7 separate regions of the Homo sapiens genome follow, and regions 1, 2, 3, 4, 5 and 6 are each linked to region 7. The links come from fine-mapping of genetic effects on gene expression. A gene starts in region 7. Each other region holds a variant in brackets. All regions are shown on one strand. Distances are from middle to middle. Region 1 holds the start of LINC02849 (long intergenic non-protein coding RNA 2849). Region 2 has its middle 99 kb from the start of LINC02849. Region 3 overlaps LOC105375937 (a long non-coding RNA gene). Region 4 has its middle 180 kb from the start of CA3-AS1. Region 5 has its middle 23 kb from the start of LINC02849. Region 6 overlaps LOC124901971 (a long non-coding RNA gene). Region 7 holds the start of CA2 (carbonic anhydrase 2).

Region 1 (4,068 bases), 390 kb before region 7:
TAATTTATTTATTCATTTTCTAAACCACTTATTCAGGGTCAGAGTGGCCGGAGCCTATCCCAGCAGCTCAGCGAGCAAGGCAGAAACCCACCCTGGACAGGATGCCATCCCATGGTAGGGGCACTCACACACACACACCCACACTCATGCCTACTGGGATAACTTAGACACGCCAACCCATCTCACGTTCACATCTTTGGGTTGTGGGAGGAAACCAGAGTGCCCAGAGAAAGCCCATGAAGACAATGGTAGAACATGCGAACTCCCCTTGTCTAGATCTGGCTGGGAATCAATTCTTTTCTCATCAACAAACATGACATTAAATGAAATGATGTTATTTGAGAACCTCCTGTAAATAATTTTGGCTTTGTGACCCTACAGTATCTGTGGCAACTACTCAACTCTGCCTCTGTAGTATGAAAGCAGCCATAGTGGGTATGGCTGTGCTCCAGTAAAGTTTTATTTACAAAAACATATGGTGGGCTAGATTCTGCCCTCAGAAGTAGTTGTCAGCCTCTGATGTAGATGACCAATATGCAGGTGACCAAAGTTCTTAAGTGTTCCCCTAGGTGGTATATTATGTGTACCAGGAGGATGAGAAGGCCTGAGTCCTGTTTGCTGGAAATTCAGTTTATCTGATTGCAAATAATATAAAATACTTTTATATTAAGACAAACTCAGTTATTTTATGGAATGGAATACATGATGGCTAATTTTTGGTGTCAACTTGACTGGATTAAGGAATATCTAGAGAGCTGGAAAAGCATCACTTCTGGGTGTGTCTGTGAGGGGGTTTCCAGAGGAGATTGGCATGAGTCAGTGAACTGTGTGGAGCAGATTTGCCCTCAATGTCAGCAGGCATCATCCAATCAGCTGGGAGCCTGGATAGAACAGAAGACAGAGAAAAGGTGAGTTTCTCTCTCTCTCTCTCTCTCTCTCTCTCCTGGAGGTGGCGTGTTCTTCTTCTCCTCCCCTTGGACATAAGCACTCCAAGCTCTCTGGCCTTTTGACTCTAAGACATGCCAGCCGCCCCCGGGGTTCTCAGGCCATTGGCCTTGGACTGAAAATTATTTCATCTGCTTCCCTGGTTCTGAGGCTTTTGAACTTGGACTGAGCTGTCCTACCAGTATCCCACGGTCTCCAGTTTGCAGATGGCCTGCCATGGGAATTCTCAGCCTCCATAATCCCATCAGTTAATTCTCTTAATAAATCCCCTCTCAAATATCTACATCTACCTATCTACCTTATTGATTCTGTCTCTCTGGAGAACCCTAAATCATATAGAATACATTTATAGGCCTTTAAGAGTGAAAATGTGCAGCTTTAAAGGGCTGTGGACTTTGTTAAGACAGGCTCTTGGGAATACATTTTTAGCTCTCCTCTGCTATTACGGGAATTTGGGTGGAAAAGTTTGAGAGCCACTGACTTAGAGACACTTACGTAACTAATTACTACATGGGAACACCAGTGTGGTCTCATTTAATCACAGCCCCTTCATTTATCTGGAGATGTCGGAAACGCAGCTAATGCTTTCCCATTGCATTGTTTCGAGGTTAATATGCTCAGTGCTCTTCTGATATTTCATATGGGTCTCTGCCTACTAGTCACTGGGACTCTGAAACTGTCGTTTCCCAGAAGCAGCCAATTATTTCAGTAGAGAGTCCTGAGGTTT[T/C]CTGCTATTGCTTTGCAGAAGTTGCTGCAATTGTTACATCTTTTCTGGCTCACCTCAAATTTGAACATTATAATTTCATATTCAGAGTCTCCTGCTTATCTTGTGCCCCAGTTTCAGCCATTTATTAAGCCTGTCTTGTCTTTTTGGCCATCTACTACTCTCAGGCAGGTCTTCAGAGGTCTTGTTACTCAGACACAGATGAGCAGCATGAGCATCATCTTGGAGCTTGTTAGAATTGCAGGATCCCAGGCCCCATCCCAGACCTAGTGGGTTAGAATTTGTATTTAAACAAAATCTCCAGTGATTTATATATACATTGAAGTATGTGAAGGCAACCTTTTCATGGCCACAAGGATCTCATTGGTCACTTGTTTTGTTTCTGGTTACATGGAAGCACCATTCAGTTTTCACATGCTGTGACTGTTAATTTTATGTGTCAACATGGCTGAGATATGGGGCCCAGTAGTATGGTCAGACACTAGTCTAGCTTTGCTGTGAATGTATTTTATAGATGTGACTAACATTTACAACTAGTTGACTTTAAGTTGTGAGAATTGTTAACATCAAAATGGAGTCACTTGTGAAAAAAAAATACAGCTGAAGAAAGTCATGAAAGGAGAGTTCTTATGCATAAATGACTTTTAGTAAGAATGATCACATAAGACTGCAAAAACCACAACCTTGCACAAAGGCCATTGCAACTTTACATAGAAAAACTTCTGCAAGACATCTGCCCAGCAACTGCCTGTCCAACCTTGTTATTGATCCTTGTAGCAAAGATAATTATCTTGCAATAATTATGTAATCTTCCTCATTTTTCTTTTAAAAACCTTTGTCTTCCTTTACCTCCCTGAATACTCACACAGTTTACTATGGCACACATACAGTGTGTGTCCTATTTCTGAATAGTTATAGTGTCCTATCCCTGAATAAATGTTTTCTTTTAAAGAGCATCTCTCTGTTTGTTATTTAGGTTGACATAAATGTGTCCAGAAGCAGGACCTGAAGCAAGAGCACTTTTAGAAGGAATCTGCGATTCTTGGAACTGGTGTGCAGTATTCACTTGAGATCTCTGAGCTCGCCACGTGCATGCCTTGTCTTTTCTGACCTGGTGAATCTTCTCTTAGGCTGAGTCTCTTTTTGGTAGAGGCTTTTTGACTTTCTTCAGGATTTGGTTTGGTACTAAGGCAGCCTTAAATAAAGGAACTTGCATCCCTCTTAAAACTATGGAAGTTTTGGGGGTTTGTTTGTTTGTTTTGCAAACGCTTTCTGGTGTAAAGATAAGAGTACTCTAGTTTTTACAGAATTTATATTGTTTCTCAGGCATGACTTTTCTGGTGAATTCACATTGGTTCTGGACACCTAGTTTAATGTTTTGTTTGGTCTGCATACATGGGTTAAAGTTTTTGTGAACACTCTGATTTTGGTTTAGTTACACATGTCTGTAAGTAACTTGGATCTTCTTTTCTCTAGCTTATTTCTGAAAAGCTTCTGAGAGCGAAAATATACATCCTAAATGGCGGACACAGAATGACTAATTTAAAAAGCGAATACCTGAAACACTAGTCCAAATTCCTGACATTCTCTGACAGGATTTATGGGATTTTCTTTGCTCTTGAGAGATTAATAAGAAAGAAAGTGAGATTCTCAAACATTAAGGCATGCCAGGTTTTCTGAGACTCCAGCTGGCTACATATGATGGCCTGTTCTCATGCACATTTTTAAACTAATGAGCAAACTTTCCTTCATGTCAAGGAAAATTCAGAGCTCAATGGCCATTATTCAAACTCTCTAAGCTTGTTAAAAATCTACAACCAACCATAGAGTTAACATGCAGAGCTTTCTAAGTTCTCAATCTCTCTATTTTTCCTTCTGGCTATTTTGAATCTGCTAATTTTCTACTAGTGTTGAGATAAACTCACTGCTTATGGCACACCAGACAAGATTTAAAAAAAAAAGTTTCAAAGATTTTTTTTTAAATTAATGGCTGTACAAATTACAACAGCTCCATGGCAACAAACAACCTACACATCTTTTGGGAATTAGGTTTTTTGACTTAGCAATTGCTTGGAGTAACAGAATAGTTAAATGAATATTTATATTCTAAAAGAAAGGAGGCTGGGTGTGGTGTCTCACGCCTATAATCCCAGCACTTTGGGAGGCCAAGGTGGGCAGATCACAAGGTCAGGAGTTCAAGACCAGCCTGGCCAAAGAGACCAGCGTGACTAACATGGTGAAACCTTGTCTCTACTAAGAATACAAAAATTAGCCAGGTGTGGGGGCAGGTGCCTGTAATCCCAGCTACTTGGGAGGCTGAGGCAGGAGAATTGCTTGAACCCAGGAGGTGAAAGTTGCAGTCAGCTGAGATTGTGCCATTGCACTCCAGCCTGGGCGAC
Region 2 (4,068 bases), 490 kb before region 7:
ATTTAGCAAACAAGGGTATGATTATAGTTTATTTCTTTCTTGGAAATATTTCACATTCATCTTTCCCCTCCAAACACTTTGACCCTACCCTAGCTGGCTTCTTTTCCTTTCATGCCAGATTGCTGCCACAATCTAACTGTTTACCCTTATGTAAGACTATTCCTATCATAACCCTAATACTAACTGAAACCTTGCTTTAAGGAAGCTTCTGAAACAATTAGCAAAATCTTTCTAAACCCAAATCTTTCATCTCATTCTTCCATTTAAGATTCTTCATTACTTTTTACATTAAATCTAAGATTCACTTTCTAGTTTTCGATATTGCAAAGAAACTTTTTTCTTGATGGAAATTATATCTACATTGCTTTTAACATCTAGTTAGAGAATTATATATTGTACAAAAAAGTGACATTTATAAATTCAAAGTAGTTTAAATACAAGTTCCAACAAGAAAATTATAGAATGTTATAGGCTAACTGCAAAATTCATCTGGAAAATAAAACATGAAAGAATAATCAAAAAATTATTTTTTAACATAAGAGGGAATTTGATCTTTCATATATTGAAGCATGTACTTAAGTTATAATAATCAAAACTGCCTTACATTCCTTAAAAAATAGAACAATAGGGTGAACCCAATAGAGAGTTCAGAAACAGAGTAATGTATACTTTGAAATTTAGTAATGATAAAGGCAGTATCTCATATCAGAGTGAAAAGTACAAACTACTCAGTAAATAATTTTGTGCCAACTAATTTTTCATTTGAGGAAAAAAGGTAAATTATTTAAATTACACTATGTACAAAAGTGAACTCCAGCTGGATTAAAAAGTTAAATAAAAATTGTTTTAAAATAATTTCAACTTTTATTTTAGATTCAGGGACTACAAGTGCGGGCTTGTTACATGGGTATATTGCATGATACTGAGGTTTGGGGTACAAACCTCATGATCCTGTCAGCCAGGGAGTAAGCATAGTACTGATAGGTAATTTTTCAGTCCATGCCCCCCTCCCTCCTTCTCCACTCTAGTAGTACTAAATGTCTATTGTTCCCATCTTTATCTCCATGTGTACTCAGTGTTTAACTCCCATTTAAAAGTGAGGATGTGTGGTATTTGGCTTTCTGTTCATGCATTAATTCACTTAGGATAAATGCCTCCAGCTGCACCCATGTTACTTCAAAGGGCATGATTTTACTCTTTTTTAATGGCTGCATAGTATTCCATGGTGTATATGTATCACATTTTCTTTATCCAATCCACCATTCATAGGCATCTAAGTTGATTCTATGTCTTTACTATTGTGGATAGCACTGTGATGAACATACAAGTGCATATGTATATCTTTGGATATATACCTAGTAATGAGATTGCTGGGCTAAATGTTAATTTGGTTTTAAGCACTGAGAAATCTCCAAACTGCTTTCCACAGTGGCTGAGCTAATTTACATTCCCACCAGCAGTGTATAAGCCTCCTTTTCTCTGCAGGCTCACCAGCATTTGTTATTTTTTGACTGCTTAATAATAGTCATTCTGACTAGTATGAGATGGTATCTCATTGTGGTTTTGATTTTTATTTCTCTGATGATTAGTGATGATGAGCATTTTTTCATATGTTTGGTGGCCACTTGTGTGTCTTCTTTTGAGAAGTATCTGTTCATGTCCCTTGCCTATTTTTAATGGGATTGCTTGTTTTTGCTTGTTGATTTAAATTCCTTATAGATTCTGGATATTAGACTTTGTTGGATGCACAGTTTGTATCCAAAACAAACACAGTTGTTTGGGATGAATATTTTCTCCCATTTTGTAGGTTATCTTTAGTCTGTTGCTAGTTTCTTTTGTTAGGCAGAGTAGTTAAATAAAATTTAAAACTGCTAAAGAACTAAGAGAAAACATGAGAGGATATGTTTACAAATCTGATATGAGGAGTGTCTTTTAAGCAAGTTGCAAAATGCAAATACCATAAAAATATTCATAATTGAACTCTATACAAACTACAGTGTTCTTGTACCATAAAAAAGTTAAGAGTCAAAGAAAAGACAAGAAGAAAATATTATTAATATAGAAAACAGATGGAGGAGTAGTATTTAGACTATATAAAGAACTCTTACAAATCAATAAGAAAAACACAACTAAATAGTCAAATGAGCATAGGACAAGGATAGGAAAAGAGAAACA[G/A]TGGAAAATATGAAAAGAAGTTTCTCTTCATCAGCAACAAGGGAATGCAGATTAAAACAAATGAGATTTTTTGCCTCTTTAGCAAGACAAATTAAGTAAAAATGGAGCTAATCTAAGTATTATATGAGGACATAGAGAAATGAAGAACACTCAAATTGGTTAAGTAGTTTTCCAGAGAAATTTGGGAATTTTTATTAATATTAATGATGATGGAAAAATATTCCCATATATGTATAAAGTGGCATTTATAAGAATATTCATTTCAGCACTATTGGGGAAAGTAAAAGTTGCCAAGCACCTAAGGAAACTCATGACTAAATTATGGTACATTCACATGAAGTAACCATGCAGCAGATGAAAGAATAAGGAAGACCTATATTTGGAAAAGAGAAAATATTTTCAAGGCATAGTAACTTAAACATGTTGCTAAACTAAATGAACAGAATGATCCCAGTTTTGTAAACAAAACTAAATAAAATCTCACAGAACAAAACTAATTTTCTATATGTACGAAGATGTATGTAAATGCATAGAAAATGGTTTGAGAAGATACAAGGCAAAATGCCAATGGTAGTTTTTTCTGTTGCAGGTAACAAAAATTGAGTGGAATTGATGAAAGTGACAGACTTGAACTTTATCTATATTTTTACAAAAAGATTGTTTTCATGCACAGCCTCTAATTAGACAAATACATTTTTAAAAAGTAAACAAAAATGGTGATGAGATAACATTAGATAGATAATTTCACTCTGGCTGAGGAGCTATTGGGTACCACCTGGCAGAGTAAGCAAATGGTAAACTGAGTCAGGGATGTACATGAAGGTTGTCTTCACCTTTTTCAAGTTACTCCATTTTCAGCCATCTCTGCTAAAAATAATAGTTTACATCTTGTTGTTCTTTTAGATTTGATAATGTGCCTTCCCTATACCATCTAATTTAGTTAAGAATTTGGTATGCCGCTCTGATAGGAAGAATAAATTAGTAAGCTGGCTGAAGAGAACTTAAGGCTTTGTGAACTAAGAAAAGAAATATGGTTGAAGACAATGGAGAAGAAGAAATCCTGTTGAAAGTGCAAGAATCAAGTAAGAATGAGATGGCAGCTCTGTGGGTGGTAGGGTGGTGGCTTGGATGGGTATGTGTTTAGATTCTGGTTGTGTGCTTAGAGCACTAGTTGTGATGACTAAACTTAGTCTGAATTTCTGGCCAGTGAGAATATGCATCTTACAAATGAAATGGATCAGTGCAAGAACAGGGGCAACAATTTGTATGTATTGATTGGCTTACATTACTTTGGCCTGAAATTTCAACACAATGTTAAATATTTGGCCTCTATTTTTACAACCATTGGTGTGGTAGCAGGACCTGAAATTCTATCTGCCCTAATCTAGCGGGAGTGTGCATGTTCCAGGTGATAGGAATGGGTTCACAGCCCTCACTTAATTTTGGCTAACACAGCTTCTTTCTCTCTTAAATGGAGTTGTCCCCCTCCTGGAAAGAAGAGTGTCAGAATAAGACAAACTAGGCCTTAAATTCCAGGTAGGAAGCTGATGGGAAAAAGGACAATTGTGTCTGTAATCCCAGCACTTTGGGAGGCTGAGGCTGGCAGATCACAAGGTCAGGAGATCGAGACCATCCTGGCTAACACGGTGAAACCCCATCTCTATTAAAAAAAAATACAAAAAATTAGCTGGGCGTGGTGGCGGGCGCCCGTAGTCTCAGCTACCCGGGAGGCTGAGGCAGGAGAATGGCGTGAACCCGGGAGGTGGAGCTTGCAGTGAGCCGAGATGCACCACTGCACTCCAGCCTGGGTGACAGAGCGAGACTCCATCTCAAAAACAAACAAATAATCAAATAAAACAGACAATTGCATGGGAGGGGAGGAGACTTGGGATA
Region 3 (4,068 bases), 54 kb before region 7:
TGTTTAATAAATGGCTGAAGTAATGAATGAAAGATGCACAATTCTGCTTTTATTTAGTAAAAGCATTTTACCAAAAGGAAAATGGAAAATCATCATTTGGAGTGTCATTTTCTGCCATAAAAGTTATGGTGGCAACTTACTTCTAGGCAAGTATAGGATTCTAGATCTATTTCTTAAATATACCTATTCCAGATCTATAATCCTAAAATATTATTCACTGATATCAGATCCATGTTAACAATGTACCCCGTCAAGATTTCAACAGTACATGTGAGTTTAATAAAAGTCCTCTGCTCTCTCATATCACATGGGTTGGTGAGCCACAACCCAGATAGCTATAGGTTCCCTAAGAGAGCTCCAAGGAAACAACAATGAATAAGAAGAAGTTGAGTCTATTTTTTCCCTCAAGAAAACAAGCAGACCTTTCCCAGAAACTGATAGACAAAAGTTACTTAGGTTTCTTGTGGGATTTATTGAGTTATGTTATGAGTGTGTATCATTGTAAATTTAAACCATGCGTATATTTATACACTGTCTCAAGTCCTTTCAGAAACAGACAGGAGCATAAATTTAAAACAAATAACAGTACAAATTTATATATAACTACAGAATTGTTGGCACATGCTACATGATATGCTGGCATACTCGTTTCATATTTGTAAGATCAAATTGATCAGTGTTATTACCAGCAGTATGGCTATATTGCTTTGCTTTATTTCTAAGAGATTTGAACCTTATTACTTTAAATAGAAAATGTGACTGCATCATTTAAATTGCTCTGATCGTAACCCAATGCAATGCATAACAGAAAAAAAGAGTTGAAAAACTGTACCCTTTTTAAGAACCCAGGGAATACGTAATTCTTTCCAATACATTTAAGAATAGTTTGTCTTGAATGTTGTAATTCAAGTTACAATTTATTCTTATTCTTTCTTATATGCCTTGTACAAAAAAAAATAAAAACGGTTTGCATCTGTCTCTAACAATGCATATTTATAATAAGGCTATGAAAGAACTTTCAGATTTAAAGTACGCAATATTTTTTTAAAGTTCTCCAATCTTTGTTTTTTGTTTTGCTGTGTTTTGTTTTTGTTTGGAGACAGGGTCCTAACTCTGTTGCCCAGGCTGGAGTGCAGTGGTGTAATCACGGCTCACTGCAGCAGCGACGTCCCCAGCTGAAGCGATCCTCCCACCTCAGTCTCCCGAGTGGCTGTGACTACCAACGTGGGCCACCACGCCCAGCTAATTTTTTGTACTTCTTGTAGAGAAGAAGTTTTGCTATGTTGCCCAGGCTACTCTCGAACTCCTGGGCTCAAGCCATCCTCCTACCCTGGCCTCCCAAAATGCTGGGATTACAGGCATGAGCCACCACACTTGGCCCTAATTCTCCAATCTTAGTCTAAGAATAATAGGAAAAATTATACGATTCAGATTCAGATTCCACAAACATTTATTGAAAAGCTACTACAGGCTGGGCACAGTGGCTCATGCCTGTAATCCCAGCACTTTGGGAAGCCGAGGTACAAGGATCACCTGAGCCTGGAAGATTGAGGCTGCAGTAAGCCATGATCCTGCCACTGCACTCTGGCCTGGGTGAAAGAATGAGAATCTAACTCAAAAAAAAAAAAAAAAAAACCTACTACATGCCAGCCACTGCACCAAGTTCTTCCTATGGTATCTCATTTGCTCTTCATAACAATGTGGTGAGGAAAGTATTATTACTGTTTCTATTTTATAGATGGGCAATTGAGACTCATGGGGTAAGATGCTTACTATCACACAGGTAGAATGGAAAACGCCCAGGAAACAGTCCAGCACACAGTAGGCATCAGTAAATATTTGCTGAATCTGAAAATACACTGCCTTTTAAGACAAATTTGCTGCTTTTCAGCATTCTTAGATCCTATCACAGTGGGTGAGTAAACATGAGGTTTGGCAATCATTTTAGCTTTTTGTGTATTTATTTTTATACGTGTTTTCTTTTATCTGAACAGGTTATTAAACTGTCTGCCAAATGTTTTACACTCTTTAAACATGTTCGAAGTCAACCTTTTCAAATTATATTGTATTATTAACCCACTACATTTCTCTGCCTTGTTGTTTTATAGAGTATCTAAGAAATTGAAGTAAAGTAGTTTGAGTTTAGTTTGATAAATCTGGGAAAACATCCCCTTATGTTCGATCAATGTTTATATGTTCTGACATTACAATTTGGACATGAAAATGGCAAATTGCTTTAAGGTCAACCTTTACGTTTTACTAATTTCTTGTCCCCTCAGAACATACCACAGTGCCTGGTACATCATAAATATTCAAT[ATG/G]TTTATTTATCAGATAAGTAAAATAATGAATGAACAACTCTTATATTGCATGCTACCTACATATAAAACAAGTAATTCTTTCCTGCAATGTTTGTTTTGGTTGCATTCAATCTGGCTATTTAAAGACAATGTTAAAACTCTGCCACTTACTAGCTGTGGAAACTTGATCAAATCATAGAAAGAGGGTAAGCCCCAATTTTCTCCTCTTTAAAATGGGGACAGTAAACTCTATTTGCAGAATAAATTATGAAAGTTGATGGAAGGTAGTTTTGAAGTTTGTACCTGTTGTGGATTGAATTGTACACTCCCCACAAGAATCGTATGTTGAAGTCCTAACCTAGATTACTACAAAAGGTGACCTCACTCAGAGATAGGATCTTTACAGAGGTGATGAAGTTACAATGAGAATAATATAGTGGGTCCTAATCCAAAGTGCCTCGTGTCCTTACTCAAAGGGAAGTTTGGAAACAGGTGCACACACACACACACACACACGGAGAATGCCACGTGAACATGAAGGCAGAGATTGGAGTGATGCGTCTAGATGCCAAAGAATACCAAAGATTACCCCAAAACCACTAAAAGGTAGGGAAGAAGCATTGAACAGATTCTTCCTCACTGCCTCAAGAACGAATCAACTCTCCTGACACTGGATCTTGGACTCCTAGGCTCCAGAATTGTGAGACAATAAGTATGTTGTTTAAGCCACTTAGTTTGTCACATTTTGTTATAGAAGCTCTAGGAAAGTAACACAATGTCTGATTATGATTATTTCCTGAGTTAGGAACTTATAATCGCCAGGTGCAGTGGCTCAAGCCTGTAATCCCAGCACTTTGGGAGGCCGAGGCGGGAGGATCACTTGAGGTCATGAGTTCGAGATCAGCCTGGCCAACATGGCGAAAACCTGTCTCTACTAAAAATACAAAAATTATCTGGGTGTGGTGGCAGGCGCCAGAAAGCCCAGCTACTGGGGAGGCTGAGGCAGGAGAATCGCTTGAGCCTGGGAGGCAGAGGTTGCGGTCAGCCGAGATCGTGCCATGGCACTCCAGCCTAGGTGATAGAGTGAGACTCGGTCTCAAAAAAAAAAAGTTAAAGTCACCTTCTGGGAGGAAGGAGTTGGCATAGAGCTAAAAGCTTGAGAAGAGAGACTCATTCTACCTGTAGTTACTGGACATCTCCCATGCGTCAGCTACTATGCTTTGTCACCAGAGATATAACCGTGACTAAGAGTCATGGCTACTACCCTCACAGAGCTGATTGCCCAGCAAAGGTTTGAAAGTGCTATGGTGGAGAACAGGTAAAGGAGGCAACTTGGGTTGAGTAAACTAATTGTTAAACCCTACCAAGTTCAAACTGTTGATAGGCACAACCTTTTATGAGTTAGATTTTACCTGCTTCTTTGATTTCATTTTCAACCTTCAATTGATTCCTTCCCCATCACTCCACATATTGTGTACATATATGCTTGTGCACATGTGCACACAGATGCGTGCACACACACACACACACACACACAGAGGTTATGCTGCCACCACACTCACTTGCATTTCCCAAAACTCCGATATTTTTTGTCTCTCACCTTTGTACATTCCATTCTCTCTGCCTGAAAGTCCCCTCTCCCATTTTATTTACTTGGCAGGTTACCAAGTTTTCCGGTGTTCTAAACTCAAGCATTATCCTCACATTTTAAATTTTCTGACCACAGCCTGAGTTAGAGGTGTCCTTCTGCTTCCATAACACCAGACACTC
Region 4 (4,068 bases), 180 kb before region 7:
GATGAGGCTCAGGGTGATTGGACTGAAGCACCAACCTATCAAGGAGAAGTCCCACCCAGTCTGCCCTGTGCGTATATAAAGGCGACGCGTGGCGGCCGCAGCACTCATTGAAGCCGCCAGTTGGGAGAGGAGCAGAGCCAGGCCGGTGCTCCCGAAGGCAGCAAGATGTTGCGAGCCACAGCTCCCTGCTGGTTCCCACCTGGATACCCAGAAACTAAGAAGGTGGCCGAGGAGGCGGCCCTCGAGGCTCCAGAATTCCCACTGCCCTCTCATCAGCCTGCCCAGAGCTTCGGGCTCTGGGTGCCCCAGATGCACAAGCAGGCCTCAGCATTTGTGGACATCCAGGCAGAGCCCCAGAACAGGGGTCCGGCGGTGCCCCCAGCGTGGCCCAAGATGGTGACGGAGTCGTGCTACTTCCCTGCGCAGAGGGGATCGGCCTGCCGCTTGCCAGCCGCCCCAAGGCTGACAGAGAGGCCCTCGGGAGTCCGCATCTCAGCCCCCAGGAAGAGGAAGACGATCGCCCACTCTTCCAGCCCTTGCTTGGTCACAGGTTACACAGATGCCAAGAGAACCCGGGTGGCCAGCAGTAGCCAACGCTCCAGTGGCTCCAAGGTCGGCAGACAGCCAGGGAAGACGCGCAACAGGTCAGGGATGGCATGCAAGACCACCGCCACCATCAGCTCTAAGCGAATCGTCCGTCGTCCATCCTTACCGAGTTTGAAGAAACCCATTATCCTCCGAAGCTCTGGGTGCCAAGTCCCCACCGTCCTCCGCCGAGGCTATCTCCAACTGTTCACCGAAGAGTGTCTCAAGTTCTGCGCCTCCAAGCAGGAGGCCGAGGAGAAGGCGCTGAACGAGGAGAAGGTGGCCTACGACTGCAGCCCCAACAAGAACAGGTACCTGAACGTGGTCCTGAACACCCTCAAGAGACTGAAGGGCCTGACCCCCAGCTCCATGCCCGGCCTCAGCAGGGCCGCCCTGTACAGCCGCCTCCAGGAGTTCCTGCTCACCCAGGACCAGCTCAAGGAGAACGGCTACCCCTTCCCGCACCCCGAGCGGCCCGGAGGCGCCGTCCTCTTCACTGGCCAGGGGAAGGGGCCCGGCGACTCCTCCTGCAGGGTCTGCTGCCGTTGTGGCACCGAGTACCTGGTGTCCTCCTCGGGCCGCTGTGTACGCGACCAGTTGTGTTATTATCACTGGGGGCGGGTCCGCTCGAGCCAGGTGGCTGGAGGCCGGGTTAGCCAGTACACCTGCTGTGCAGCTGCTCCTGGCTCTGTGGGCTGCCAGGTGGCAAAGCAGCACGTGCGGGACGGCCGCAAGGAGAGCCTCGATGGCTTCGTGGAGACCTTCAAGAAAGAGTTGTCCAGAGACGCTTATCCAGGAATCTACGCCTTGGACTGTGAGATGTGCTACACCACGCATGGCCTAGAGCTGACCCGCGTCACCGTGGTGGACGCCGACATGCGAGTGGTGTACGACACCTTCGTCAAGCCCGACAACGAGATCGTGGACTACAACACCAGGTTTTCCGGAGTCACCGAGGCCGACGTCGCCAAGACGAGCATCACGTTGCCCCAAGTCCAAGCCATCCTGCTGAGCTTTTTCAGCGCCCAAACCATCCTCATCGGGCACAGCCTGGAGAGCGACCTGCTGGCCCTGAAGCTCATCCACAGCACCGTGGTGGACACGGCCGTGCTCTTCCCGCACTACCTGGGTTTCCCCTACAAGCGCTCCCTCAGGAATCTCGCGGCCGACTACCTGGCACAGATCATCCAGAACAGCCAGGACGGCCACAACTCCAGCGAGGACGCAAACGCCTGCCTGCAGCTGGTGATGTGGAAGGTCCGACAGCGCGCCCAGATCCAGCCACGCCACCGGTCCGCCTCTCCCGCCGCCCTGGCCTGTCCTTAGCCCCAGGCCTCTTCCAAAACTGCCATTCGTCCCGAGAGCTCACCCTGCCCACCTCGCCGCAAAGCGAAAGAAACTGGAGCAGCAGGCGGCAGGAGAGGGCAAAAAGCCAAGACTATCCCCGACCCCCGACTCCCAGTGCCCCGGAGTCCCTGCAGCGGGCCGCCGTCCATGTCCCCATCGCTCTGCCCCTCCCAGACCTCTGTCCTTCAACCAATCGCCTCCCCGAGGCCCGAGCCCCAACTCCCATTCCCCCGGGTCGCTGCCAAGGCCCCTCGCGCCTGTCCCCATCCCTCTGCCTGTCGAAGACCTCTGTCGTTACACCACTAACCTCACTCAGCCCACCTGCACTTCCCTGGCCTCTGAGAACAAGGCCAGCCCCCAGGCCCACCAGCTTCCTGACAGTCTTCTCTCCTGGGCCTCTTCTCCTTCTGTGGGGCTTTCTGA[A/G]CCTCCCCTACCGCACCCGATTTTTTCCCCACCCCCGGCGCAGGCGCAGAATAAATGGTTATATGAATTTTAAAATTTAAAATAAAAAAAATTAAGAACAACTCAGAGGCATTTGCTTCTTAATGTGCACTTACCTGTTTTTCTCTAGAGCCACCACAGTGAGATGGGTGAAGCACTTAGGCTCTGGAGTTAGATATCTGGGTTCAAATTCAAATTCCACCACTTACTAGCTTTGTAATATTGGACAAATAACTTTTTTGCGCTTCTACTTTTTTATCTTTAAAGTGTGATCATAAGGTAATGGTGAGGAAGGAATGAAGCAACACATGGCAAGCCTTAAAACAATGGCACATAGTAGGTGTTCAATTAAGAGTCAAAGTGGATTCTTTCACCCAGACCAATCAATTATAATGTCTGAATCAGTCAGTCAACTTCCAACTGGGCTCCAAGAGAGGATGAACCATCATGCCTCCCTAAATCCACGTTTCTGTTTTGAATCTTCAGTGAGAGATGAGACTCTAAGTAGCTAGTTTTGGTGGAATGGCTGATTTTATAAATGTGTGTGGGGGGTGTGTGTTTGTGTATGTGTACATAACTAAATGAAACTGATATTTTGAATGCTTACATTACCATGAATTTAATTTGTGTATATGAGCCCACACAAACATATATACACACTCACTAACTGTTCCAAAACAATGACTTAGTGAAGAACTGGATTTCCACTCTGTCAGACAAATTTCGGAATGCACTGAAGTAGGGCATTTCTGATTGATTTTACTGTTCCTGGAATTTTATTTTCCTTCATAACTTAGACTTCTTGTGGAGATTTAATAAATAAAAGTCTTTTTTAGTGTATGTTATTTCATTTTATTTTTATAATTTACTTAAATTTTAATTTTAAATTGACAAGTAAAAATTATATATGTTTATGGGGTACAACATGAGGTTTCCTATATGTATGCATTGTGGAATGACAAAATCAAGCTAATTAACACACTCATTTCCTCACATACTGATTTTATTGTTGTGAGAACAAGTTTTAAATCTACTCTTATAGCAAGTTTCAAGTACACAATACATAGTTATTCACTGCAGTTGCATGCTGTTCAATAGATTTCTATCAGTATTCCTATCTGAAATTTTGTATCATTTGACTAACATCTCCCCAATCCCTCCCCAGCCCCTACCTCGGGCAACCACCCGTCTGCTCTCTACAACTATGAGTTCAATGTTTTCAGATTCCATATATAAGTGAGATCATGCAGTATTTGTCTTTCTGTGCTTGCTTTTTAAAACTTTATTATGTATTTATTTATTTTATGAGACAGGGTCTCAGTCTGTCATGCAGGCTGTAGTACACTGAGAGAAACACGGGTCACTCACCATGGTCTCCACCTCCCCTGGTCAAGAGATCCTCCCACTTCAGCCTCCTGAGTAGCTAGGACTACAGGCGTCCAATATCACATCTGGCTAATGTTTGTATTTTTTGTAGAGATGGGATTTCACCATGCTGCCCAGATTGATCTCGAACTCCTGGGCTAAAGTTCTCCACCTGCCTTTGCCTCCCAAAGTACTGGGATTACAGGCATGAGCCACCATGCCTGGCCTTTGCTTTATTTCACTCACTATAACATCCTCTAGGCTCATTCATGTTGCAAATGACGTGATTTCTTTCTTTTCTAAGGCTGAATAGTATTCTGTTGGGTATAT
Region 5 (4,068 bases), 370 kb before region 7:
CAAAACAATAACAAAAGAGAGAAACAAAATCCTACCCACAGGAAGCAGGCTACAGTCTTATTTTGTGAAGCCATGAGCCATTTCAAATAATGCAAAGAAACTTCCTTTACCCCTTTACTCCGGGAGGAATGTTGAACATTTAAAGGAATATTACCTCACCAGATAGATAGCGTTAAACACATGTGCTTTCTTCTTTTGTTCTCTTCCAGCTCCTCATTAAAACAAAAGACAATGAACTTTGTCTTAAAGGTATAAACCATAGGGGCAAAAAAATGGGAGAGGGCATGGCAGCATCAAAAATCTCGAAAACAGGAGAGATGAAAAAGGCAGCCTCTTTTTTCCAGGTGTAATGGCTCACACCTGGAATCTCAGCACTTTGGGAGGCTGAATCAGGCAGATTGCTTGAGCTCAGAAGTTTGAGACCAGTCTGGGGCAATATGGCAAAACTTCATCTCTACTCTGGAGACTGAGGTGGGAGGATTGCTTGAGCCCAGGAGGTTGAGCCTGCAGTGAGCCGAGATCATACCACTGCACTCCAGCCTGGGCAACAGAGTGAGATTTTATCTTCAAAAAAGGAAAAGAAGGGAAGGGAAGGGGGGGGAGGGGAGGAGAGGAGAGGGGAAGAGGAGGGGAGAGGAGAGAAAGGGGAGGGGAGAGGAGGGAAAGGGGAGGGGAGAGGAGGGGAAGGGGAGGGGAGAGGAGGGGATGGGAAGGGAGAGGAGGGGAAGGGGAGGGGCAAGGGAAGGGGAGGGGAAAGGGAAGGGGAGGGGAAAGGGGAGGGGAGAGGAGGAGACGGGAGATGGGAGGAGGGGCGAGGGGACGGGGAAGGGAAGGGTGGGAGGGAAGGGGAGGGAAGGGGAGGGAACGGGAAGGGATGGGATGGGAGGGGAGGGGAGGGGAAGGGGAGGGGAGGGAAAAGAAAAAAGAAAAGAAAAGAGAAAAGAAAAAGGCAGCAGATCTGGGGAAAATGAATCCGAAACTGATGATAAGGAAAGCTGAAAAGCAATCTAATTTGTGCCATGAAAGAAGACAAAATGTTCTGAAGCTGACAGCATCAGGTAACTCTTGAAGGGGTTGAGGAGAGATGGGCTGGCTAAAATAGGGAGAATGAGTTGAAACTATAAGAGGCTGCTGAATCCCCAGACCCCTTTCCTCACTCACTCCGCTAGGTAGATGGCTGAGCCTTTCCACTGCAGTAGCAGATTGGAAGTTTACTCTGCATAGAGGGTAAAACAGTCTCCAAACTGGAACATTAACCACAGTTAAGGGTGGAGATGCTCTTTGGCAGTAAATGTTTTAGTAGGACTCATGCCTTCTCTATAACCTGCCATTTCCACTCCTAGGAATATGCACAACAGGCAGGTGTGCACAGCCCGCCAAAATACAGGTTCAAAGATGTTCACAGAATTATTTGTAGAAGTCAAAAACTGGAAACAGTGCAAAGGTTCATCAACAATAGAATGGCCAAATAAATTGTGGCATGTTCTTCCAATGGAAACTCACAAACACAATATTGAATGAAAGACGTCTGACGAAAAGGTTATTTATAAGTTTTTAGTTATAAAAAAGCTCACAAAACAGGCAAACCTAATCCTATGGTATCAAAAATCAGGGTAATGGTTAATTTAAGAGAAGTAGGAGGATATAAAGCCTGGGAGGGGACATTAAGGGAGCCTTTGGGATGCTTCTCTTTCTTGAGATGAGTGTGGTTATGTGGGTGTGTTCACTCTGTGATCATTTGTTGAGCTGAACGCTTATGATTAGGTCACTTTTTATATGAATATCATACTTCAATAATAAAGTTAATTTTTAAAAAGCGACTCAAATAAGAGATCTGTAGATTGCATATCAAGTCCAGAAGTCTTAAAGAACCCCTATGTTCAGTGTAGGGTGGGTTTCTTTGTAAAACTTGCCATCAGTGGAAAGGAAGTAGATAGAGGAGGTTGACGAAAGGGAGCCCTTTTAACCCAGGAATCTGTTCAGAGAGGCCACCTGCACCTAGGCTGTGACTTCAATCACTTACAGTTACTAGGCACAAGCAGCTCATTCGCCGTACACTGGATATTCAGCATAAAAAAGTTTTCTTCATTTCTCCCCAGACCATTTTGGTGGGCAGAATCCTAAAACATTCCCAAGATTTAGGGCCCCTGGTGTACTCGCACCTTCTCCCAATTATTCAATTAAACACCAATTCGCATGCTGAAGTGAAGGGATTTCTTGGATGTAATTAAGATACCAAATAAGGAGACTATCCTGGGAGAGCCTAACCT[A/G]CAATGAGACCTTTAAAGGCAGAGAATTTTTCTGGATGGCCAGAGCAGAAGAGTTCAGAGAGATATGCTCAGGCTGGCCCAGAAAAATGTAAACCTCCATGCATGAACTGCCTGTGGGGGCCAGAGGCAAGGACCTGTGGCATCTTCTAGAAGCTGAGAATGGCCCCTGGGTAAAAGCCAGCAGGAAAATGGAGAGTGCACAACTACTACTGAGAAAAAAATGAACTTTTCCAACAACCAGTGAGGTTGAAAGCACTCCATTTGAAAACCACGCCCCTGTAGACACCTACATTTCAGCCTGATCAGCCCCTGAGCAGAGATCCCAGCCCTGCCATTCCTGGACTTCCAACCTACAGAAACTGTTAGATAATAAATTTGTGTTGTTTGAAGCCACTGAGTTTGTGGTAACTTTTTATGCTGCAATAGAACACTGATGCAAGCACTTTCTCCCACTATTTCTCTCATCCATCATCTCATTTTATATGTTATATTGATAAGGTGCTAATTACTAGTAACAGTTGCCCTCCTCAGACTTCTAAAATTATCTAATACAAGAGTTTCCTTTCACTTCTTTCAGCAGTAGATCAATGGAGTCCATATTAATACCTTACTAGCATTTAGAACTCGTGGGCCTATAACCTAAAAGACTAAAAATTGGTCAAAATTGAAATCTAGAAGATGAAGAATAGTGTGAAAAATGGAACACACATGTTTTGACCAGAAGCATTAGCATGAATGAGTAATCTCTGAGAGATGAGTAAGAACAAAAATATTTTTTAAAGTAGTATGTAAGAAATTAACCATAGAATTTGTTTCAACAGGGGTATAGAGAAAATTTAATAGATTTTTAAAAGCTTTAAACCAATCTGTGTGTTACAGAAGCAATAAATGGGGAAGCAAAGAACAATGGTCTGATACCAAAAGAACCCCACAGGCCAGTCTAGAAGTTCTTCAGCAGGAGATCATTGTCTTGGATGCATGGGTGGAGCCATGCTGCAGATCCTTTGTCTCTGTTGCGCAGATTGCATAATTGGTCCACTTAACTCTCCCTGACTTTGCCGGGTCCTCACGCTTCTGTCACCACCTATGCAGGCTGCTTTGTATTTCTTCATCATTGTTATGTTCAACATGAGGCCACCGTTCAAAAACATTATAAATAGGATTTGATAACAAACTTTCTAACTGCAATGAAAATAACGTCCAGGGTTTCAAGCACACACATCCTCTATATTAAAATGAGGTCTGAGTTGAGAAAAGCTGTATTTTGTGAGGGTCTGAGTTGAGAAAAGCACTCACAGGTGCTGGCTGAATGCTTGAGGATTTATAGAAGTAGAAAATTCTGCAGACCTTTGTGTGCTGTGCCAGCGGGGGTCAGGAAAGTTCTGAGAAATGACCTAATTAAATCAGTACATAATAGGAGAATAAAAATGCCTCACAGGCCTAAAGACACAATGAGTCTTTGACCAGATGCAGACTTTCACTGCATTTAAAGAAAGTACAGCTAAAGAAAGAAGTGGTCAGCAGGAAAAACAGCAAATGACAGCCAGACCCTCACTGTGTACCCACAGCTGGTTACATGAGAGAAAATATATCTGGGAGGTGAGAGTATTCTCAGTGAGAAGATGAAATTTCACAGGTGGCAGAGTTATTTCAAGATTTTCTAGACTTTGGAGAAACTATTTCCCCAAACTAATATCCCTTTCCTGAATTTTTATGAGGAAGGTATTATGGATAAATAACTGGAACATTGCAAGTTCTTTTTTGTTTGTTTGTTTGGGTTTTTTGTTTTTTGTTTTTT
Region 6 (4,068 bases), 430 kb before region 7:
TCTAAAAGAGTTACTGAGAATGAGCAATATAAACACAATTTAAATATTTAAGTGATTCTATGATAATGTATATTCTTGATATGTACACATTTGAACACTCACTCTACCCACTGTTATCATCTTCCCCAAAATTCTTTAGGCTATTTTTAAAAAGAAGACCTATAAATATTTAGAATAAATGTTCTTAGCACAACACTTAATCACTGTAGTTGCTGGATAGTATATTCCTTATCAGGACCTGTATTTGGTCATGGTTTAGCTGGGCTTCGGTGAATCCATTTCAGATTAGGTATGCTTGCCAGAGACAAGAATCTGGTAAGGATATTACATCTGGGTTACACTGGAAAACAGAAAATCCATTCAAATAACCAGGAGATAAAGCAAGAAAACATAATTTAAGTGTATGTGCGATAAAGACTGTGTTAAAAACCCACAGTTCTTACCTTCACAGAGTTTTAATAAGCCTTATATAGGTATTTACATATATAATTAATAACAATTATTCATAATAATAATTATAGTTCTATTTGCTGAATTTTCACCATGGTCAGGAGCTGTGTTGATACATTATTGAACTGTTACAACAGCTCTGTTTAGTAGCCATATTCATTTACATTTTACAGTTGAAGAAATTAAGTACAGGGAAGTACAGTGGTTTGAATGAGGTCACACAACGACGTGTCACAGACTCAACTTTGAAGTTGGCCTCTATGTTGTACCATGGCGGAAAAACGTGTTAAGTATTCCAAAAGAGATGCAAGCAAAATGTTGCAGGAAGAGGAAGCCCAGATATTGTACCTGTGGGAGTAAGGATGGCAGATGGGTGGGTCAAAGAAAACTTTAGAGAATATAACATTTGAACTGGTGCTTGAAAGATTACTAGGAATTCACCAAGGAAAGACCAAGAAAATGTCTCTCTCAAGCTGGAAGTCTGAGAAGGATGTTGGAGGAAGAATGAGGACTCCTCATGTGTATAAATAATACAGGGGGCCTTGGTGACAATGAGGTTAGATGATGTTTAAGTGATGCTATACTGCAAAGGGCCCTGTAGACGCTGCCAAGGTGTTGGGCTTTATCCTGTGTGCAAAGAGAGTGTATTTATCCTGTGGTTATTGGGATGATTACCTTGGCAGCTTGTAGATGGATGACCCACAAGAGTAAATTAAAGTTAGTGACACAGGGGATGATGGAACGGGAACCTTATTCAAGAGTAATTTCTAATGTAGAATTAATAAATGTTGGTGACCAAGTAGATATGAAGATTGAGGAAGAGAGACTGAAGAATATCATAAAGGCACATCATGATTATGTTGGCATGACAGATTAGGACATAAATATATATAATCCTCATAGGTTTACTTCTTAGATTCCGGCCAAGTAATGGAGATAGGTTTGTCCTTGGATCAATCAGTTTTCCCCTATAAAGAATAATAGATGACAGAATATCTCTTCTCATTTCCTTCTGATAGCTAGAGTTACATTTCTAAACCTGCGTGTCAATTTTAAGTCTAACCCAGGGCAATTTGAATGACTAAGAAGGCATTACAATTTAGACCATTTTAATAATTTGGTTTTATTAATAAGCAGCCATTTGCTATGATTAATTTTTACCTTATTGTATGGAAACAGTGGCCAAATACACAGTTTTGCACTGAAATCTGACTTCATTCTGATGGTCCCTGGAGTTCTCTGAAACGGGATGACTGTACATCACTCTGTGG[C/A]TCACTCAGCCTGCTCTCTGCAGTTTAGCCTGCCTGTTCCCATGCCCACCCTCTAGTCAGGGTCTCTCCAATAAAAATAGTGTTGTTGTTCTCCTCAGCTCCTAAACTGGGGTAGCTGTTGGGGCAACAGAAGCTTGATTTGGCATAAGCAGAAGAGATAAGATCAAAGTCCTAAGAAAAATAGAGTAAGAAGTAGCCTGCCCTTTGAAACCTTGGCTGACTACACTCCAACCTTGTGTTTATAAAGCCTTCAGCATATCACAAAGGAGACAAGAAGACAGAGAAACTGGATGAGATGTTAGAGTTCCTCCGTATTTTGGGTTCAGGAGAAGCCAGTTATATATCTTAGAATCCCTTTTCTCCCCACCATTTTTTGAGAGGTTCCCTAAATCACATCTTGCTGAAACCAGACTGAAATATTCCTTTTGCTTTATGAGAACATGCTCAACTGAATTTTTAAGGTATAATGAATAACTTAAAAGTTAATAATTTAAGGTGTGTACTTTAGAAAAGAGGAATAATCAGAACTCTACATAGGTTTAAGTGTTGGTAGATCTGCCATTCTATTTGGAGGTCTAATAGCAAAAATTTAAAAATATTTCTTCCTTATTAATAGTCCCCTCAGATGAATTCTTACAGCTGATCTAATCCTTTTGCTAGATTTTGTGTCCTGAGCTTTTTCTTTCTTACTTTTTATTTATTTTATTTTTTTAATTTTTCTTTCTTTCTTACTTTTTAGAGGAAAATATAGTAATAAGTGAATATATTATTCTATAGAAGAGTTTTTGAAACATAGAATCATTCATAAAATATTTCTATTGCTTTAGGCTGTATAATTAGGATCTCTATGATTGATTTCTTATTGACAAATGGTGACTTAGGAGGGCCCAGGTTTAGCATATAGAAAGTAGATCAAATTCTAGTACACATTAAAACCTTATTTATGCATTCTTCATTTTACTGAAAAAAACAGATATGTTGAAATTTATATAATTCACCCTGAATTTATTTAATTCAAGATGTTCTGATTATTTATATATAAAAAAGCTTTGCCAAAGTTACCAGGAAGTTTGGATTCTTGGGCTTCAGTATCTCTGCTCTAAAATGCTTTTGGGGACCTTATCTGAATGGTCGGAATTCTAAGAAGTTTTTCAACTTTCCAATAGTGATTTTGAAAGAACACAACACACACAAATAATGAATTGCACATGAAAATCATAAAACCACAGGAGAGAAAGAACACTCCAGAACCTGTTAGCCTGGTATCCCAGGAGACAACATTTTTCCCAAGAGCATAACTCATCTTTAAAAATATTTTATGGCTCTTCTCTTTAGCTTCTCAAAGAAGTCCTTGGCAGACAAATGGTTAAAAAAACCCTGGTCTAGGCTTTCCACTGCTTGAATGGTAATCAACCTTACTTTTACCACTAGATTAGTACCCAGTTAACCAACAAGTACTATATTAGTCTCTAGGGTGAACCATGGTTATTTTTATATATAGGGAGGTCATAAGTCTTAGCCACAAAAGCAATGCCTCCTTTCTGGTGTGTGTCCTGCTACAACATCATCTATTACCTCCAAGACTGTGGGATTTCTTTGATTTTTACACATTCAAGTCAGTGAGGTTGTTTGCATAAACCACAAACTCCAAGGTGCTGACTTACCACCCGCTGCCTGGGTTAATCTGGTCCCCTGACAGTGCTATAGACACTGTCACATTCACCATGAATCAGGAAAGCTAAAAATGGTTTAGGAAAAAAATAAGTTCATGGTAATATTTCATTCCTGAAATGTATTATTAGTTGATCCATTTAAATATGAAATGAGGCAGGCATAGTTAACTATTGAATAACTATTTATATATATATATACATATATATATATAGTTATTTATTTATTTATTTAATTTACTTTTATACCTCACAGGAATAGCATTCTTTGAACACCACTTTGCAAGATGTTGCTAAAAGAAGAAATCAAGAATTACAATTTCATCATAATCATTATCTTCAACAAGTCTTCTAGATACATAAGAGGTCTGTGGACTAGTTTTACCTGTAATCTTCATTGCTGTGGATAGCTGCCTTCACAGCTTTACAAGAAATGGGATAGGTTGAAAGCAAGAGTTCAACTCTAGGGTACAACTTCCCTAAAGAAATTAAATTTTATTGAGCCCTTGCCATGTACAAGGTGCTGGGAATGAGGCAAAGATAAAAATAAGATAATTTTGATCTTCGCTCACCAAAATGCTGTGAAGGAGTTCATAGACTCAATTAATTTGTGTATACAATACAACTTATATAAATTAATTTGGTGAACTATATTGCATTGTTATCCTGTCATATTT
Region 7 (4,068 bases):
AATGGCCTTCATAGAAGCCAAGGGTTTTACAGGGAAGAAACGGCCCCGGGACACTTCAAACTAATTAGCCTACTTCTCAGAATCTGAGACCTAATGAAAATGATCAGGGTGGCATCCTTGAGTCCTGAGACAAACTGTATTATTAAGAGGGTTCCTGCCACTGTTCCTGGCTCCTTCCATTAAGCTCGGAAAACAGCTACTGGCTAAAAGACACAAGTTATTTTCTAAACACTGACCTGCTTTGTCCTGAGAGTCATCAAACTCCACGTTGAAAGCATGACCATTGTTGAGGATCCTCAGGGAAGTTGCTTGATCATAGGAAACAGACAGGGGCTTCAGGGAAGGGTCATACTTGGCTGTATGAGTGTCGATGTCAACAGGGGACTGGCGCTCTCCCTTGGCAATGGGGAAGTCCTTATGCCAGTGCTCAGGTCCTGGGGGAAAGAAGACATGTGAATCCCCCATTGTGGGGAAAGGTACACCCAGACCCCTAGAGAAGAGCAATCATTCCGGAGCCAATCTGCTCAGTTCCAATTTTAGAAGCATCACTTAACAATGGGCTAAATTTTGGGAAAACACGTAATCTGTGCCTCAGTTTCCACATTTGTAATATGGGATAATTAGAAATCTACCTCATAGATGTCGCTGTAAGAATTAGAATCGATATATGTAAAGCTCTTAGATCACTGAGTGCTATATAAATATTAGCTATTTTAAGGTCGTTTTACTGAAATTCAGCAACTGAAATCGGGCAGACACTAATGTCAGGGCTTGTGGTTGCGATTTTGGGATATGCAAGCTCACTTAAGACATTCAAGGAGGTCTGGATCCTTTCCTCACTGCCCAGGCCCGGGCCCACCCCACCTTTAACCGTCAGGGTTCCCCACTACCTGGGAAGCCCCACACCCTCCAAAGATGCGCTAGGTGCGCCAGACGCATGCTCCTCTGCTCCGCTGGCTCCGAAGAACCAGATCTGAGGCCAAGATAAAACCCGATTCCTGATGTCCGACCCCCTAACATTAGAAGTCGAGAGATGAAGGGAAAACTCGGAAATCAGAGCCATGGATTCAAACCAGCACTGGAAAATGCCCCGGGACAGTTCGTGCTGAGCGCCTTAGCCACAGGTGGTGCTGAAGCTGGAGGGGTGGGGTGGGGGTGGAAGGTGGGGGAGGGGGGAGGGGAGTCTCTTAATTTCTCTGCGATCAACAACTAGAATTTTCCGTTACAACCCTTTCCCGCCTCCTCCTAGGTCCGGTTAAAATGATCCCCAGGTCGGGACCCGGGAGGGACTGTCCTCGGGTCCCGCGGCCAGGGCTGCGCCTCCCCTCCCTCGGGCCCTACGCGCCTCCGGCGGACGCGGGGATTCCTCCACAGTGGCCTCGCAGCTGGGGCAAGGGGGACATCCCCGGCGCCGCGGAGCCGCGAGCGGAGCGAGCGCCCGGGGCGCACCTGAGCCTCCAGCACTCCCCGCGGCCGCGGTAAACAGCATGTGCGGGCGCTGCGGGCCCCGGGCCGGCATCCGGGCTCGGGGATCGGGGATCGGGGATCGGGGATCGGGGCGCCCCCGCGCTGGCCGTCGCCGGCACTCACCGTTGTGTTTGCCGTACCCCCAGTGATGGGACATGGTCGCGCTGGCGGTCGGGGCAGGGCAGGAATCGGCACCGATCTGGCGGCGGCGGCTTGGGCGCCTGCACTGTGTGTCCGCGGGTCGCGCCGGCACCAGCTTTTATAGGCTCCCGCCAACTTCGTGCTCGGGGGCGGCCCGGGGGAGGGGGCTCGGGTGGACCTAGGCGACAAGGGGAGGTGGTGACGGGCGGAGGTGAACTCCCCGCGCTCGGGGCGGGGCGGGCCGGGCGGGCGAGTCTCCGGGGGCGGGGAAAACGCCCTCTCGGCTGGCGCCCGGCGGGGCTCCGGGGCTCCGGGGCTCCGGGGCTCCTCTCCCGCCGCCCGGCTCCCCTCGGCCCACGGCAGGGCCCCGGTGTCCTGGGCTGGCAGCGAAGCTCGGAGCTCTGGGCGTGCGGCGGCTGCGGTGGCTCCTGGGCTCCTCCGTCCAACCCGGGCCGCGGAGCCTCTACGCGCACCCCATCCCCCTCCCGGCTGCGGAGTCTGGCGGCGGCGGGGACTGCTCGGGACCCGGACCCCCGGCGCCTTTCGTCCCCTGTCCCCATTGTGACCTGTCTCTTGGCCCCGGAGCCCTCCCGCCCCACCCGCGCCGGGGTCTCCAGCGCGAAGGGCTCAGTCTCTGGTGTCCCCGGCCTGGGGCTGGCAAGCTGGGTTAGGAGCTATGACCTTGGGGCAAATAGGGATACGATCCTAGAGGCGCAGGGGAGCGCGCAGCATGAGTGCTGAGAGGCACGCGCCCTCTGCTGCACGGCCGTGGAATAAAACGAGACAACGGCCCCACAGTCCCCTGCCCGCAGCCCACGCTCGGGCGAGCCTGGAGGATTGCATTTCCTCGTAGGCTGGCAGAGCCTTACATGAAGCGCTCATCTTCTCCTACTTTCCTCCTCTTTAAAAAATTAACGTGGGTGAGGAGACGTCCTAGTTGAGTACATATTGATTTGAAATAACCAAAACTTTTAACAAATCACTTTTCTCAGAAGAATCCAGTAAGAGAAAGATAATTTCTTCCAAAGACATGAGACGTTCCCTGGCTGGCCAAGAAAAATTGGCATCTGGCATACCTAGGAATCATTCAAAATAGTTTAATAGGAAGGACATTTTGAGGCCAGCCAGCATTATGACATTTGTGGGTCCTACGGCATTTCACCTTGGTGGGTCCCTTTTTCATAAACACGCATTTATACCAACACTGACATAAAGATAAATATCTTAATATTATATATTTAAACATTTTCTTTAACCAACACCTAATTTTTTTCTTTTTTGTTCTTATTTTAAAAGGAAACATTTTCCTGGGCATCTAAAAGTATTGTGGACCTGAGACACTGTGCTTACAGGGCCTACTGGGTAAGTGAGGCTGTTTTGAGATATAGAGAGAATTCATTTCCTACAAGGGATTTTGCCACAGAAAAATCCGGGGGTTTGTGGGAAGGAGTTCGGTTCTGTGGTCTCTGCAATCTCTGAGGGCAATAGTATTAGAGTTACAGTTGGGGAAGCAGGACACAGTTTAATGTGATTGTGTCGGCCTTGACATCACATTACTTACCTTTGAAAATATACAGATAAATACAAGGATAAGTTATTAGTGGACATTTTTGCAATATGTATCTCAAAATCACTCTTTACTATTTATTTCAGTCAATTTCATCCAAACAAATATGATTCATGTTTAGACTTACTTGTTCTAAGATTCTAGAAAATTGTGTACTTCTGCTTATGTGGGTTTTGGGTTGATGTCACAGGGAATTCTTAGGCAAGAAAGCAGCAATAAAGTTTTTAAATTTTTAGGACCATTACAAAATGGAGTTTGTAGCAAAGAAGAAGCTTTTATTTGTGCCTCTGTAGGTGCATTGTATCTGTTGGGGCCCATTGATGTAATTTTGTTTCTTTACATAATTTTCAAATATTAACTTAGTTGCTATGAGACTCTTCACTTGGCCCTGGAGATATGGCGTTGATAGGTGCCAAGAATTGAGTGCAAAGTTTGTGAATGTAGAGTGGCTTCCCGGGATTCTGTGGAGGGAGCCAGGCGATTTGATCAGCAGGAATCCTTGTCTTTCATTTTCCGTGAAACTGGATTGTGGCTTTCCTAACAGGGATGAAGTAAGAGCATGTTTGATTCTTAAATATGCGTAAAACTTCAAACACCACCAAACTGCAGTTCACCAAATGGATTATTGTCATGGGAATTTTTCCTTATCTCTCACTTCTGGAAAGTGAATTAATTCTCAGTGGGAGCAAGCCCTCCCCACAGAGCTGCTGTTAGGGAGAGTGTCACATGTTCACCACAGGGTGGAGAGTGGTTCACCTTTGGTTACTCAGAAGCAATCTAAATTTTTTAGCAGCGTTTTTGGTATTACAGTGGTTGGCTTAGCATTGTTTTATTTTCCTGGTCAATTTTTTTTAATGGAGTTAACTTTATGCATTCATGTTGGTCAGTCCCAA

What was found. PIP is the estimated chance that this variant, and not a neighbour inherited with it, causes the effect.
Region 1: its variant is fine-mapped to the expression of CA2 in whole blood (INTERVAL, PIP above 0.99).
Region 2: its variant is fine-mapped to the expression of CA2 in whole blood (TOPMed, PIP above 0.99).
Region 3: its variant is fine-mapped to the expression of CA2 in whole blood (TOPMed, PIP above 0.99).
Region 4: its variant is fine-mapped to the expression of CA2 in whole blood (TOPMed, PIP 0.98).
Region 5: its variant is fine-mapped to the expression of CA2 in whole blood (INTERVAL, PIP above 0.99).
Region 6: its variant is fine-mapped to the expression of CA2 in whole blood (INTERVAL, PIP above 0.99).

What each region holds. Positions count from the first base shown.
Region 1 is chr8:85,851,350-85,855,417 of GRCh38, reverse strand. It overlaps LINC02849 (long intergenic non-protein coding RNA 2849), which reads left to right and starts at 37. Exons shown (of 3, transcript XR_001745725.3): 1 at 37-114; 2 at 742-908; 3 at 2,646-2,899. The variant T/C (reference allele first, on the strand shown) is at 1,673.
Region 2 is chr8:85,952,216-85,956,283 of GRCh38, reverse strand. No RefSeq gene overlaps it. Among named protein-coding and RNA genes, the nearest start is that of LINC02849, 99 kb to the right of the region's middle. The variant G/A (reference allele first, on the strand shown) is at 2,176.
Region 3 is chr8:85,515,400-85,519,467 of GRCh38, reverse strand. The region is part of intron 3 of LOC105375937 (a long non-coding RNA gene); the gene reads right to left. Among named protein-coding and RNA genes, the nearest start is that of CA3-AS1, 53 kb to the right of the region's middle. The variant ATG/G (reference allele first, on the strand shown) is at 2,318.
Region 4 is chr8:85,640,568-85,644,635 of GRCh38, reverse strand. It overlaps the pseudogene REXO1L8P. Among named protein-coding and RNA genes, the nearest start is that of CA3-AS1, 180 kb to the right of the region's middle. The variant A/G (reference allele first, on the strand shown) is at 2,356.
Region 5 is chr8:85,829,862-85,833,929 of GRCh38, reverse strand. No RefSeq gene overlaps it. Among named protein-coding and RNA genes, the nearest start is that of LINC02849, 23 kb to the left of the region's middle. The variant A/G (reference allele first, on the strand shown) is at 2,271.
Region 6 is chr8:85,895,851-85,899,918 of GRCh38, reverse strand. The region is part of intron 1 of LOC124901971 (a long non-coding RNA gene); the gene reads right to left. Among named protein-coding and RNA genes, the nearest start is that of LINC02849, 43 kb to the right of the region's middle. RefSeq lists a silencer at 3,245-3,539. The variant C/A (reference allele first, on the strand shown) is at 1,722.
Region 7 is chr8:85,461,638-85,465,705 of GRCh38, reverse strand. CA2 (carbonic anhydrase 2) reads right to left here and starts at 1,699. Exons shown (of 7, transcript NM_000067.3): 1 at 1,591-1,699; 2 at 237-434. The coding sequence starts at 1,624. CA3-AS1 (CA3 antisense RNA 1) reads left to right here and starts at 791. Exons shown (of 3, transcript NR_121630.1): 1 at 791-1,124; 2 at 2,905-2,970. RefSeq lists enhancers at 1,091-1,590, 3,491-4,068 and silencers at 1,234-1,703, 1,814-2,133, 2,204-2,463.